Linked DNA regions of Homo sapiens. The protein of the gene in region 2 interacts with the protein of the main gene of each other region in a biochemical or structural test. Each region holds a gene or a part of one and is shown on either strand. Other genes may lie near its edges.

Region 1 (9,258 bases), on a different chromosome or scaffold from region 2:
ACAGATGGGGAAAGAGGGGAGGAGGGACTGAACCCCTCAGCCCTGAGGGGAGGATCCTTGTTTCCATTCCCGCTGTGCAACAGCCCCAGGGGTCCAGGGGTAGGCTGCCCCTCTGGGCAGCCCAGGCCATCCTCAGACACAGCTTCCTCCTGCTGCTTCCATCCTGGGGATCATCCATTTCCTACCCTCCAAGTTCAAGACCAAATCTGCTATCTGCCCCTCCCCTATGTTTCCCTCTGTGCTTGCTGTAGCTGGGCCTGCCCCAAGGAGTCAAGATATCCTGGGACCTGGTCTAGTCTCCCTGCTCCTTTGTTAATTCCTTAAGTCTAAATATAATTAACTTCAATAAATAAATAAATAAAAGAATAAAATATGATGGTGGCTCTTGTCCTAAAATATTTTCTTAAAAGATCTAGGTAAACATTTTTCCTGCCACTTCTACTTTTCTCCCCACTTTACAAGTAGGATAATTGCAAAATTACTAGACTTCAACTATTGACCCCTCCTGTCAGACATGAATTGAGATTATTTAAATTATGTTAGTAAGTACAATATCCTTCTATTTGCGTGGCTTCCACAATGTCACAGTCATCCCATATTAGGGGAAATTTAAATCACTGTAAACCCTTCTTAATACAAATCTCACCAAACTAAACTCCTGCCTATATACATGCACTACATAAGACACACAAATGCACCTGCAAATTTTCTGAAATAATTTTTAACAGCTCTACCTTTTAAAACATGTTAATCTCACTAATCTGTTTAGGGACAGGCCGGGCATAGTGGCTTGTGCCTGTAATCCCAGCACTCTGGGAGGCCTAGGCAGGTGGACTGCTTGAGCTCAGGAGTTCAAGACCAGCCTAGGCAGCATGGTGAACCCCGTCTCTATTAAAATAAATACAAAAACTAGCTGGGCATGATGGTATGCACCTGTAGTCCCAGTCCCAGCTACTAGGGAGGCTGAGGTGGAAGGATGACTTGAGCCCAGAAGGCGGAGTTTGCAGTGAGCCAAGATCACATCATGCTGCACTCCAGCCTGGCAACATAGTGAGACCCTGTCTCAAAAAAAATAAAGATTCAGGGACAGAAAAGCTTTGTCTAAACCAATTGAAGGATTATAGTCTATATATTCTAGGGTTTTTTTTGTTCGATTGGTTTTTGTCTTTTTTTTTTTTTTTTGTACAGATAGGGTCTGCTATGTTGCCCAGGCTGGTTTCAAATTCCTGTGCTCAAGCAATCCTCCCACCTGCACCTCCCCAAGTGCTGGGATTACAGGTGTGAGCCACTATGCTGGCTATACTCTGGTTTTGATGATGGGTTTTTGCCTTTTTTTGGGGTTGCGGGGTGCGGTTTGCCTTTTCAAGTTTCACTTTTAAAACATCCCTTCATGGCCAGCCTGGCTAACATAGTGAGACACCATCTCTACAAAAAAATTTGAAAAATTAGCCAGGCATGGTGGTGTGTGCCTGTAATCTCAACTAAATGGGGGGCTGAGGTGGGATCATTTGAGCCCAGGAGTTCGAGGCTCCAAGGAGCTGTGATTGTGCCACTGCATTACAGTTTGGGCAACAAAACAAGAAAAAAAGAAAACAATCCCTTCACAGCCAGGTGCAGTGGCTCATGCCTGTAGTCCCAGCACTTTGGGAAGCTGAGGTGGGAGGATGGCTTAAGGCCAGGAGTTCGAACCAGCCTCGGCAACACAGCAAGACCCTGTCCCTAAAAAAAAATAATAATTCTGGGTGTGGTGGCATGTATACCTGTGGTCCCAGCTATTCAGGAGGCCGAGGTGAGAGGACGGCTTGAGCTCATGAGGTCAAGGCTGCAATGAACTATGATTGCACCACTGCACTCCAGCCTGGGCAACAGAGCAAGACTCTGTCCCCGGGGGACAAGGGGAAATCCCTTCACTATATGGGAAAATGAGGGATGTGTACTTGGCACTAACCCTTGTCTCACTAAATCTGTCCCCAGACTCTTCTTAGCAATGAGCAAATAAAGCTTTGGGATTTAAGCTCCTTGCAATCCATCAATTAATTAGTCTGGACAGCAGCCCTAGGTCAGTGTCAGATCCCCTTAGAGCAGATGACAAGCATACGTTGCAGAAAAATGACTTTGTCCAAGGTCATGATGTAACTAGATTGAAGACTCTACCCACCTATTTTTTAAAATCTAGAAAATACCCCTCCTGTCCTCTTTTACATAATAGAGGAACTGGCTTTTGAAAAGTAATTTTAACCCGGGCGCGGTGGCTCGCGCCTGTAATCCCAGCACTTTGGGAGGCCGAGGTGGGCGGGTCACCTGAGGTCGGGAGTTCGAGACCAGCCTGACCAAGATGGAGAAACCCCATCTCTACTAAAAATACAAAATTAGCCGGGTGTGGTGGCAGGTGCCTGTAATCCCAGCTACTAGGAAGGCTGAGGCAGGAGAATTACTTGAACCTGGGAGGCGGAAGTTGCGGTGAGCCGAGATCACGCCACTGCATGCACTCCAGCCTGGGTGACAAGCGTGAAACTCCATCTCAAAAAAAAAAAAAGTAATTTTTAAAAAAGAAAAAAACGTGATAAATAAAAATATACATACACACAGTCCCCTTGATAAACCTCTTTTTTATCCCTGCAAAATAATAGTTAAATTTCACAGCATTTTACAAGAGATTACCATGTGAAATGAAATCAACAAGTTCTAAAAGGTCATTATGTGACCACCTGCCTGGTGGCATCTCCTATCTCAGAAATGAAGTTATTATTTCAAGGAAGCAGGGAGAAGTCTTTAGATTTTAAGGGACATTAATAGAAAATATTTTCCAATGACCTAATTTTTAAATTGAACCTAACAATCTAACAAGTAATTCATCAGACTCTTCAAATTCTCATTTCCCTAAAACTTCTTTTCCAGAAAGGGACTTTTGTTTTGTTTTTGTTTTTTGAGACGGAGTCTTGCTCTGTCACCAGGCTGGAGTGCAGTGGTGCGATATCGGCTCACTGCAATCTCCACCTCCCAGGTTCAAGTGATTCTCATGCCTCAGCCTCCCGAGTAGCTTGGGACTACAGGTGCGTACCACCACGCCCAGCTAATTTTGTACTTTTGGTAGAGACAGGGTTTCACCATGTTGGCCAGGATGGTCTCAATCTCTTGACCTCATGATCCACCTGCCTCGGCCTCCCAAAGTGCTGAGATTACAGGTGTGAGCCACCGCACCCAGCCATTTTGTTTTGTTTGTTTTTGAAACGTCTTGCTCTGTTGCCCAGGCTGGAGTGCAGTGGCGTGATCAGGGCTCACCGCAACCTGGAACTTCTGAGCTCAAGCCATCCTCCCACCTTGGCCTCCCGAGCAGCTGGGACTACAGGTGCACGTCACCATTCCCAGCTAATTTTTTGTCTTTTGTAGAGATAGGGTCTCACTATGTTTCCCAGGCTGATCTCAAACGCCTGACCTCAAGCGATCCTCCTGCCTGGAGCCTCCCAAAGTGCTGGAATTACAGGTGAGAGCCACCATGCCTGGCTAGAACATCATTCTGTTTCTTGGTTACTACTGATGTCAGCTCTGTTTTGTCAGGCTAAATACCCACTCTGACCAGAAGGCCCCTTCCTAAGAAAAGAAAGTTCAGATAAAGTCTGGCCAATACAAAAATGAACAGATAAAGAAATGAAGTGATGTTAGCAGAGACTAACCTCCACCCACCAACCGACTCCAACACCTCCATGTGCCAACAGACCTGCAGCTGGTCAAGTTACTTGACATGTCCCAACAAATGTGTAACAAAGCAACAAAGCCATTGACTAAAACTGAGAAATACTATCCCCAACCTAATTGGGCAAAATGACCATCACTGACTGAAGGCTAGAAAGCTCACCTCATAATTGCCCAAATGTCACTTATAACCTGAATAGGACAAAAGCTAAGCTAAGCTGTTCTTTACAAATGAAGATCCCTAGTTTTGTCTCAACTCCAATGCTGCTACTCCACTTTCTGCTCTTCTATCCAGGAAAATAGCTAAAGTAACTATTCTTTACACTTTTGTGTATGCTTCACATTTTTTGTAATAAAATTTTTTAATTTACTCCCTGAAGTGACGGGTCTGGCAGAACAAAATGATTAGTTTTTATATCCGAAAGAAAGCTTAAATGCTTAAAAAAAAAAAGCAGCAGCAGCACATATGGGATGACTCTAAGGCCATGTGTAAAGATATATGCTGATGGTGCTTTAAGAAGGATGGTCTACAGTTAAAGGACTGAGTGTCTTAAATCATGGTGGGGGGTAGAGGACTTAAAAGAATGCATTCCAGTCAAATTCTGCATCTTTGTTCCAAACATCCTACAATTATGGAACTGAAATGCCTCACTGTCCTAGAGACATCTTTTCTTCATTAATCTGGTTCATAAACTTGGTTGTAAAAAGCAAATTCAAAGAATTCATCTAATAATGACAGAAAAAGAAACATTTCTGAATGAATTTGTGGAAGTGTACAATTTAATTTTTCATTTAATTTTTATTTACAATTTTCATTTAATTTTCATATTAATTTTTCCTCTTTAATCCCATGCAAGGACACAGCAGTTAATAAATACTTAAGAAATACTTCTCAATTGCATACCATTCTTATGTCTAAAACAAGTTTCTCACAATCTGGATTTTATAAATCCAGTTATTAGTATCTCAAACTTTAAATAATCAAAAGTCAATGGCAGCAGCCTAAGAATATGGCTTTCCCAAGGTATCAACTCACCCACCCACTCACCCCAAAGAGACTTGTCGGTACGCCCTCTGGTGAGTCCCCTTCAAGAGACCCAAACTTAAATTTGAGAATGTGTAGCCCTCCAGTTCCCAACCTTCATTCCATCTTTTTTTTTTTTTGAGGCTGCCAATGATCTGTACTATAACAGGTATATTAGAAAATACCAAATTCTCTTAGAGAAAAAAAAATTGCACAACAATCTCAACACTGAGAGGACTGTCCAAGGATGAAAGCAAGGTACTCCTAGGTTAGTAGTTTTTCAAACCTATAGATGGCATTTGGAAAGAAGTACACGCATAGGCTTCAAAAAACCCTGAACACCAGAAACCTAATTAGCACTTTCATTTTAGGGGCACGGGCTTTCCCTTATCCTTTTCTACAGCCAACCTTAATGGGGTCCAATTAAGGCAACAATGAAAGGTTACAAAAGTCTACAAAAAGGTCCCATTACAGCATTTAAACAGGGTTCATTTTTTTTAATCAAATAGTTTACACTGTTTTTTTGTTGTTGTTGTTTGTTGTTGTTGTTGTTGTGTTTGTTTTCTTTTTTGAGCCTGTTGCCCAGGCTAGAGTGCAATGGAGTGATCTCGGCTCACTGCAACCTCTGCCTCCTGGGTTCAAGCAATTCTCCTGCCTCAGCCTCCCGAGTAGCTGGGATTGCAGGCGCCTGCCACCATGCCCAGCTAATTTTTATATTTTTAGTAGAGACAGGGTTTCGCTATGTTGGCCAGGCTGGTCTTGAACTCCTGACCTCAAGCGATCCGCCCACTTAGGCCTCCCAAAAGTGCTGGGATTACAGGCACGAGCCACTATGCCCAGCCCTGTATTTTTTTACCCAAGAGAAAATTCCCCCACTGGCAGATTTCTACCCACTTATAAATGTAAACCAGTAAACACATTTTTCACTAATCTATCAACCTGAAATACTCTAATACTCTAAGTCTAGGCCAACAGGTCATAAAGAAAATTACCCTAGAAACAGAGAAAGAATAAAATTAAGGTTTAATAATTTTCTCTTAATTTTTCTTATCAGTGTCTCAACAAAATAATTCAGGCCAGGTGCACTGGCCCATGCCTGTAATCCCAGCACTTTGGGAGGCCAAAGCGGGAGAACTGCTTGAAGCCAGGAGTTCAAGACCAGCCTGGGCAACATACTGAGAAACCGCATCCCTACAATTTATTAGAGGCTGAGGAGGGAGGAGCACTTGAGCCCAAGAAGTGGAAGCTGCAGGGAGCCTTGATTGCAACACTGCATGCCAGCCTGGATGACAGAGTGAGATTAAAAAAAAAAGGAAATTTCAGGCCCTGGCTTTTAATAGAGAATGTTTATTAATGTTTTTCAAAGGTAATTCTCTACTCATTTCGCTCTTTTAAAAGTTTAGATTGCATGTTTAAAACCATACCCTATAACCATAGGAAGGGAAGGAAATTTTTCCAGTGGGGGTGGGGACTCAAATCTTTAGCTGACTCATATTTGCAATATCATTCACATTACATTCTTAAAGTCTACACGTTTTGTTTATTAGTTCACTAAGAATTACAACTGGGTAGATATGTTTGTGGCTACTAATGTGCCCAATTTACCACTGGCAAAGTCAAATTTAGCTAAACACCCATTCAATAACTACAACAAATGAAGTTTGTTTTAGCTTTAAGGTAGACATTTGTGGCCTAGGTGCGGTGGCTCACGTCTGTAATCCCAGCACTTTGGGAGGCCGAGGTGGGTGGATCACCTGAGGTCAGGAGTTCAAGACCAGCCTAACCAACATGGTGAAACCTCGTCTCTACTAAAAATACAAAGTTAGCCGGGCGTGGCGGTGCATGCCCACCCAGCTACTCAGGAGGCTGAGGCAGGAGAATCGCTTGAACCCGGGAGGCGGATGTTGCAGTGAGCAACATGACGTTGCGCCATGGCACTCCAGCCTGGGCAACAACAGCAAAACTCCATCTCAAAAAAAAAAGGTAGACATTTGTGGCCTAGAACTGTAGGACTTAATCCAACCTCCTACCAGGTTTTTCTCCTGGGCATTATAGTCCTAAATTTGTCTTAAAAGGTAGTTAGGGGTCGGGGGAGGGGGGAGGGAAAGCATTAGGAGATATACCTAATGTAAATGATGAGTTAATGGGTGCAGCACACCAACATGGCACATGTGTACATATGTAACAAACCTGCACGTTGTACACATGTACCCTAGAACTTAAAGTATAATTTAAAAAAAGGAAAAAAAAAGTAGTTACAAGTGAGTTCAGGGTTTCTTTTGAGGGAGATGAAAATGTTCTACAATTGATTGTGGTGATGGTTGTACAACTCTGAAAATATCAAAAACCACTGAATTACACATCATAAATTCGTGAATTGTATGGTATATTTCAATAAAAGGGTTTTTTTTTTAAGTAGTTATAAGTTCTTCCTTTGCTCAAGGATGTTTCTACTGATAAGCCTCTTCTCTAAACGTTAAAGGCTTAAAGTGGCCAAAGATACAAGTAGGGAAAGATTTCATGACACCAAAGAAATAGGGAAAACAGAGAGAGGGTTAGGCCTAAGTCGATCAAACCCCAAATTAGGGAGAATGATACGCTGGAAAGGGAGTAAATGAGCTCCATATCATTAACACTTCTACCATACAAAGAAGTGTATAAGTTCCTCCCTCTTCTCTAGGAGTGGAACCAACAGGCTCACTCAAAAATGGTGACTGTATTAAAACATTTAAGGGCAGTTTTACACTTGGCTATAAAGATGAAGGAATCAAACTAGTAACCACAAGAAGTTAAAGCTGAAAAATTTTTGTCTCTTGTGGCCTCTGGGGTTTGATTTAAACCTTCTCCGGACACAAAGAAGAAATCTGTGGAATCTAGGCCCGGCACGGTGGCTCACGCCTGTAATCCCAGCACTTTGGGAGGCCGAGGCGCATGGATCACCTGAGGTCGGGAGGCAGAGGTTGTGATGAGCCACTGCACTCCAGGCCTGGGCAACAAGAGCAAAATTCCGTCTCAAAAAAAAAAAAAAAAAGAAATTTGTGGAATCTATCTATGGCCAAATGTGAGACATTTGAAAGCAAGAAAATAAGTTACTAAAGCCATAAATATATTCCTATCAAAATTTGGGAGACAAAAAAGTATTTACTGAGCAGCCAACTATTTTTCTGCCTAATAGTTACACCCTTAAAATTACTCATCTCCAAATACCACAAAGTGATATGGAAAAATATCATTTGTCCTTAAACAGACATCTAAGTACAGTATCATGGAGGAAATTAAAAATTTGCATTTTAAAGGTGACAAAACCAGAAGCCAGATGAATTGTAAATTTAAGAAGGTTTTGGTCCAGAAAACAAGCCTGGTTATCCTACATAGTTGATATAATTTGAAACAAAGGTTTGTATTAAACTTCAAACTCAGATTTGAAGTATAGTCTTCTTGACTTAATCACGTTTTCTCACATTTATCTTACTATATTTTCAAATTTCTGAGAACCCCTAAGCTGCCATATACAAAATAATGTAAGTACTCTAAGTTTTCAGAAGCCAAGCAGTTTGGGAGTCTCACTGAGAAAGCAGCTATAAACTGAAACTATATTAAGTACCATTGGTAAAGATACAAAGGTAAGAACAAAAGGAGACAGAAATGTTTTATACTTCTCCTTACCTTCTAACAAGTAAAATACCAATAGTTCCAATTCCCCTTCTAATATAACCATTTGTGTTCCAAAAACTCGGTGAACAAAAATCATCCAGAAATACAGACATTATATATATCACCATGGAAAATATTTCACACTTCTTGAAGGGTTTTTTTGTTGCTATATATCAACTATATGAAACCACTTGTTCACAGTTAGCTTTCCCAAAAACAAAACAGTTTCTAAAACAAAGACTGTTTACATCTCTTAAGAAGCCTTTGTTCCAACAAGACCCCTCTTCAAGAGCTACAACTTCTGGAAAGATTTCCCTTTTTGTGGTTATATCAACAACAAATACTCTCAAACTCTTTCCATTTGGCAAAGGAGTTTGTTAAACAAAGGAGGAAGCAAGTCCCCTCCACACAAAGGAGGTCTCCAAACAGAGTACTGGTTGTATTTGTAGATTATTGGTGCCTCTTTAACCCCTTTCCTCAGGCTGTACTATGTAGCACTCTCAATACAAAATGGTGGCCATCATGTCTGTCTGACATTCAGAGTGAGAAAAAGGCAATTCGATCACACATTTTGCAAAGATTACCATTAATATTCTAGCCAAGATGAGGAAATGGGTAGCCAAGCCTAACCAGAGCAACACTATCTTTTCAGAAAAAGGGCCCTCTAAAAGGCAAAGAACAAGAAAACAAGATAAAGGATTTACCCCAGCCCTGGTATACCACAATACCAACATGGAGGACACCTCCCAGGAACCTGACTCCCCACGTTTTGGTTACTAAGAACTTAGTCAAGTTACCCAATTTCTGAATAAAATCCCATTATGCAAATGTGCAATATTCATATTCACCCTTCCTAGCATGTGACATGAAGCTACATTACTACAGTG
Region 2 (6,700 bases):
TTGGGAGGCCAAGATGGGCGGATCACTTGAGGTCAGGAGTTTGAGACCAGCCTGACCAACACGGCGAAACCCCGTCTCTACTAATATAAAAATTAGCCGGGCATGGTGGTGCACACCTGTAATCCCAGCTACTCTGGAGGCTGAGGTAGGAGAATCACTTGAATCTGGGAGGTGGAGGTTGTAGTGAGCTGAGATCATGCCACTGCACTCCAGCCTGGGTGACAGAGTGAAACTGTGTCTTGAAAAATAAAAAACAATGTTTAAAAATTAAATGTGTTTTCTTAGAACTGGCTGGTTCACATATTACCTCACCAAATAGATATTTGGCCTCACTTTGTATACTCTCTAAATGGATTCATGTTAAAGACATACTCCTACAGTTCTAAATTTGAATGAGACCCTTAGAGAAATTCAGACACTAAGTCCTTGGATAATATAAGTGATCAATGTCAAGGTGAGAGTTGAGAATGGTTTTTAAGAAATGCAATGACCATTCCATATACCAAAGGGAATTCTTTATTGTAAACAAGATATAAAGTACAACAAAAGAAATATTGTGCAAATTGTAAGTCACAAGGATTTTTTTTAATTAAAACTTTTGTTTTCCAAGGGTCCAAGTTTTGATGTCAGAAATCTACACCCAATATACAAAAACAATGTTAAATGGGAAGATATAGTGACATTTTTCACTATATATTTTAAGCAATGTACTTTTGTTTTGCCACTGTGTATATCATCCACTATATAACAGAATAAAAGAGAAATACTGTTAACAAAAGTGAATGTTCTAATAATTTTTCTACCCAACTACCTCCACATCCCCAAAAAACGCCTATAAATTAACAGGACAACATCAACATTTGTCCACCTGTGAATAATGGTCACTAATTTTCTAATTCAATAAAGCACACATTATATCCTCATAACATAAAGGTACTTTACTGATGACATAAGCCATCTTTTTCAAGAAGTTATCTAAGATTCTTAATATCCCTTCTTTACAATATATATTTCATCTTCAGTTTTTTTTCTAAACAAAGTGCAGTGTATCTTAGAGTCTACAGAAAACACATTGGTATACAATTTTCAAATCTACACAAGAAACTGCAGGCAAACTAAAGTTCAAAGCATAATGAAATGCCTAGATACAGTCATTTGTTAAACTTTCAAAACAAAAATGCAAAAACAAATTGTAGCTATGCTTCAAAGCAATTAAATTAAGGAGGATTCCAATTCTTTGGGCCCTCTTAGCAATATACAGTCGTTCAATTCCAAATATTCACAATAGTGTAAAAATGATAGTTCTAGATATATTTAATCACTACATCCACGATGTTGACTGGAAAGACTAGGAATAATAAAGAAGATAACTCTAGAAAAAGATGACAATATTTGTAATAATACAAACTCATTTTACATCTCCATGTCTGTACCGTAATGTTTATTTCCTTCCAGCCTCCATATTCTTGAAACCAGTGCTTTAGAAGAATCACATTGAAAAGTTGGTCTCAAGTATAAACAGCAAAAGTAAAGTAACAAATATGCACACAGATTCAAAATCTGTGCTACCTGTGTTGACCTCATCTGAAACCTTCAAAAAATATTCAAAGGAATAAAAGCTTTCTCATCTCTCTTATGTGATAAGAAATGAAACCTGCCTTTCTGTGACCTGCCTGTGGCCGAAGCCCTTTTAGTCACCTAACCCAGGCGGGGCCTTCGTGCCAGGCTGTGGGGCTTCTGCTTTAAGCCCACGTTGTGGGGCCACAGACTTGCAGTGGAAGCATTTTTACATCACCACTGGCTCCCGCTGAGACCAAAGTTAGTTCTGACTCTTCACTTTCCGGTCTGTCACTGTGTGGGAGCAGGGGTTGGAGGTAGAGCAATGTCATTTAGCTTGCTCACTTCCATCTGCCAGTTTGGTAGCTTCTTGGCTGATAGATGGCGCCGGGCATGCTTGGTCAAATGGTCACTCCTCATGAACCGCCGGTCACACATGGGGCACGCAAATTTCTTCTCACCCGTGTGGGTTCGCCTGTGTCTGGACAGTTCATCAGAACGGGCAAACCTCCTTTCACAACCTTTCCAGCTACAGCTGAAAGGCTTTTCTCCTAAAACAAAGACATACAAATCATTATTATGCATAAGATTGCCGTAAATTATATGTTCAATTCTGTCTAAAAGTATATGAGAAGATACATTTTAAATAATAAAAGCTAATAAATCAAACTGTCAAATGAATATGAGATATGTATTGCTCCAATTTCAACTTGTCACTTGATCACATTTACAAAACTCTTCCCCACATGAAATAAGGCAGCCGGGTGGAGTAGTAGGCACCTGTAGTCCCAACTACTCAGAAGGCTGGGGCAGGAGGATAGCTTGAGCCCAGAAGTTTGAGACCAGTTTGGGCAACAGAGCAGTTTTTTTTCATCCCTTAAAAAAAGCCAAAAATGAAAAGACTTCCTGACTTTAACTATGATTCAAAGGCTTTAAAGATACCTTATTAAAGTAACTACTCAGACATCTACAGAATCATCATTTGAGAGACTGAAACAAAAGCACATCAATAAAGTATTTACATACTTATTTTTAAATTATTTGTAGAGATGAGGTCTCAGTATGTTGCACAGGCTGGTTTTGAACTCCTATGCTCAAACAATCCTCCCACCTTGGTCTCCTAAAGTGCAAGGATTATGGCACTCGTGAGCGGCCTCCAATACAGCCTTTTGGAGGACCTTGCACTGGTAAATACCATCCTCTAAACTAGCTAAAGGCAAGTTATTCCTTATCATCCTGGGTTTAAATGTGTGATCACAGCCAAAATCTCTTCATTTAAACACTAAAGATATAAGAAGTGGCTGGTACCTGTGTGCGTCCTCGTGTGGGCCTTCAGATGGGAACTTTTAAAGTATGTCTTGCCACATCCTGGGTGGCTACAGATGTGACTCCTTATCCTTGATGAATCAATCTGAGGAGTGACTTTTGCTGCTGAAGGGGAAAACCCAGGAGCAGGGGCAATGGGAGAGAGTCTGGTGCCATTCGGGCTCACCACCGGAGGCTTTGAACTCTGCACAACGGGCTGGGGTACCACAAACATGACAGCGCCTTTGGGGACTTGTGTGCCCATGAACACAACAGGGGGGCAAACGGCTGGTGGCTGGCTGGGAGGAGTGCTGGGAACGACTGTTGTCACAACAGGGTTGTTGGCAGGAAGGGGAACCATCTGGCAGATGACCGGCATAGGTGGCACTCCCCCTGCAGATACTGCAGGTGGAGAGACCAACACTGACTTCTGTTGTGGGGACACAGGGGCTGGCTGAGACCTGCAGATGACCGTCTCTGAGGAAGGCACAGAAAAGTCATAAAGTGCAGCACTTGCTTTCTCATCAACATCTGCCACTGTGTTTCTCTCACATTTGGATCTGTTTGGTGACACAGCGGCACATGGTATGTTCTTTCTTGCAGCCTCAACATTTAGGTGGGTTCTTCTTCTAAAAGAATTGTTCTGATAGTTGAGGATGCTGGCTGCTTTCATTGGGCAGGTCTGGTGGTTACATAGCTGGGCATCAGCTGTATGACGAATCACACTTGTTGCCTGAGCTTTGGGGAGTTTGGGGGCAGATACTGGGCTCTTTTCTTCCTCTTTGAAAGGTGCGGCAATGTGAGGTTTGGCAGTATCTGAGAGTGACTTGAAGTGTACAGTAGATGGCGCTGGTGCCATCAGATTTGACACTTGAGAGGGTTCAAAGTCAGAAGGACTGTAAGGTGGAGTCAAACACTAAAGAAAAGGGAAATACATAGCATGAGAAATCTACAGTTTATTATATAAATTTTAAGAAATTATATAATTTACGTCTATCTTAAAAACAATAATACTTACAAATGCTGGGATTGTATGAAAATCAGGTGTTCCCGGAAGCAGATTCTCTTCCTCTGACAAATCAGATACTGGTGTAACAGGTCTGTTTTCAACGTATTTCTTAAAATCAGACTTCCAACTGCAGCTCATTGACATAAGTGCTTCTACAGCTTCAAAATCACTTTTCTCTGCAGTTTTGTTCCAGGAATACATACTCTCTTTTGGCCTTTCAGAAATCATTTCCATTCTTTCCTCCTATAAAAACAAAAGAGGAAAGCTTATAAGCATATTTTTTGTCATCCAAATGACACACAGAAAAATGAGCAAATTTTTTTTTTTTTTTTTTTTACAACTCACACAACTTTCCAAATTAAAATCAGAAATAATTTTCCTCTCACACTTACTATGATACTAAGGAAGTTCAGCTACACTTGTTAGGTAGGTAACCCAAACCTCACAGTAGTGGCAATAAAATCTTCCTCATTTTTTCTGTTAACATTTAGACTTTAACACTGATAAAGCGATATCCGTTCATGGGAGAGAGGCACACCTACTACCATTAAGGGGACTAAGACGAAAATTATCAATGCATTTGTGATCCAAAAGGAGAAGTATTTGGCTAAGAAGAAAAGGAGTATTTTATATAGACTTTCCAGAGTAGCTACCTGCAACTGGAGTCGGGCAAAAAAACTAAGAGTGCGGCAAAAAATTTATCTTCTTAAATATTACAGGTATGGTATGAGGTCTTTTGAGGTACAAATTGCTGATAGAAAAAAAAAATAGCCAAAACCTTCTAATAAAGACAAAATGTAGTAGAGCTCTGGCCTGTTGTTATGGGTCTGACCTTTGGAAAGTCACTTTGCACTTTGGGATAAAAATCAAAAGATAAGGGATCCTCAGGGTATCTTTCAAGTTAAAATTGCATTATTTAAGATCTAAAATTTGATCACTTGATTATGGTAAAGAAAAATCAAGTGATATACATAGAAAAAAATTCTAATGTTTATTTTAATTAACTTTCAACCTCTTCATATTTGTGCTCCCTTTTACTGAATCTATTTGACACAATGGTTTGCCATACATAACTACAACATAGCTAATGCAATATTACTAAAAACTGGATAATCAAAAAATTTAATATTCTACTTGGAATTTGCAAAAACCGACTTTAAAAAGTCAGCATAATCAAAGTAGAATCTATTTTAATTCCTTAAAGAACTGCTTGATGACAAAATAACAGCACAGGTTTTGCACTTATTTGTAGAACTACCTAATGTTTTATAGTAAAGTTCTTTGAACTACGCTAAAAAAAAATGGTACTACTCACCATTTCTCCTATTTTCCATTAAAAGAAAACTGTCCAGACTCGTTTGGTCAAAGTAGAGATTGTGTAAAAATACCAAAAAACATTCTTTACGTTGCAAGGTATTATTCTCAATACTAGTTTTTCAAAAATGCATGATGCCTTCGTGTTGAAATCCTAAGAAAACGAGCCATTGCTCTTGAAATATCGCTAACAATATAATTGCATAATCGCGCCCGCCTTTATGTAAGCTGCAATGGACAGCGCGCGTGTGTGTAACAGCCCCAAGACGCCAATGCAAAAAAAGGAAAAAAGAAAGGCAGGCGGCAGGGAAAGAGAGCGTGAGCTGGGAAGGACAGGAAGGGAAACAGGGAGGGGAGGAAAGGGAGTGGGGCGCGAGGCAGGAAAGGGAAGCGCGGGCGGAGGCGCGGGCGGGGGAGGCAGACGAGGGGCGGGGGCGGACGGCGGGGGAGATCCTAGCTGGCGGAGACCGACGGATGGGGCCGCCCTAACCTCAATGAGGCTCACGGGTGAGTCACTGGGAACATTCCTCGCCGCTCGCACGTCCCCGCGCCCCTGCCCCCGCCATTGGCCGGCCGGCTCGGCGGCCCGAGCCCGGATTGGCTGTGCGGCCCGGGGCGGGGGCGTGGGCGAGGAGGGGGCGAGGCATGTGAACAAAGCGTGATCAGCGGCTGCTCCGGGAGGCGCAGGAAACGTGAACTGGGAATTGCCGCGCCGTCACCTTTCCCCTACTTCCTGAGCTTGCGGGCCCCCGCCCGCGCCCGACCCGGGGGAGGGGCCGCGGGCGCCGCCGCCAACCGCCCGGCCGTGCGCGCCGGGCCCGCGGGGAGGGGCGGGGCTGCGGGCGCCAGGCTCCGGGAGGCGCCCGCCCCTTCCAGCTCCCCGCGAGCCGCCGTTCCCTTAGGAACCGACAGCGGGGCCGGGCCTCGCTCCCGCCCCTGGCGGAGGCCGGGGCTGGGTCACTCGGGGACGAGAAGCTCCCCGGGCGCACCCGCTCCCGGCCCACCCCCGGCCTCCGCCTCAGATGCGGGAGGAGGAGCCAGGTCCCCGCGGAAACCCGGCCGCCGCCCTCCTCCCGCCGGCAGCCCCCGGGAACCCGGCCGAGCCCTCGGCACTTCCCGCCCACGCGGCCCACGGGACCTCAGACCACCCCGTCTCTCCCTGTAGACGCGGCGCCCCCTCCCCGTGGCTTCCGGCAGCTCCAGGCCCCTCCCGCCGCGCGTCTCCACGGGTTCCCAGACGTGCAGCCCCCACAGGCCCCGGCTCCAGACGCGCGGCCCCCGCGTCTCGCGGCCCAGCTCCCCCCGCCCACCTTCCCGCCCCAGCTGCTGGGTCCCGCTTCCCACCCTCCTGCCCCAGAGGCGGCTCCCCGCCTCTTCCAAGGAGTCGTCAGAAGGCGGCCACCTGCCCCTGGGGTAAGAGTCCCCCTCCAGACGTCTGGGGGAGCAACTCGTCCCCCAGGGCTGTCGGCGGGCCCTCGTGTCATCCCCCCGCTCCGACGACAGGCGCCCCTTCCC

The links. The genes of interacting proteins can lie anywhere in the genome.
Region 1: the proteins of KLF10 (region 2) and KDM5B form a complex in vitro, tested with the Homo sapiens proteins (one study listed by BioGRID).

The regions. Positions count from the first base shown.
Region 1 is NC_000001.11:202,797,135-202,806,392, forward strand, and holds part of KDM5B (lysine-specific demethylase 5B), read right to left. Parts: intron 1-9,258. UniProt on the Homo sapiens protein: Histone demethylase that demethylates 'Lys-4' of histone H3, thereby playing a central role in histone code. Does not demethylate histone H3 'Lys-9' or H3 'Lys-27'. Demethylates trimethylated, dimethylated and monomethylated H3 'Lys-4'.
Region 2 is NC_000008.11:102,648,284-102,654,983, forward strand, and holds the end of KLF10 (Krueppel-like factor 10), read right to left. Parts: intron 5,461-6,700; exon of another isoform or gene 5,190-5,460; coding exon of another isoform or gene 5,187-5,189; intron 4,115-5,186; coding exon 3,881-4,114; intron 3,779-3,880; coding exon 2,866-3,778; intron 2,109-2,865; coding exon 1,849-2,108; 3' UTR 501-1,848; downstream 1-500.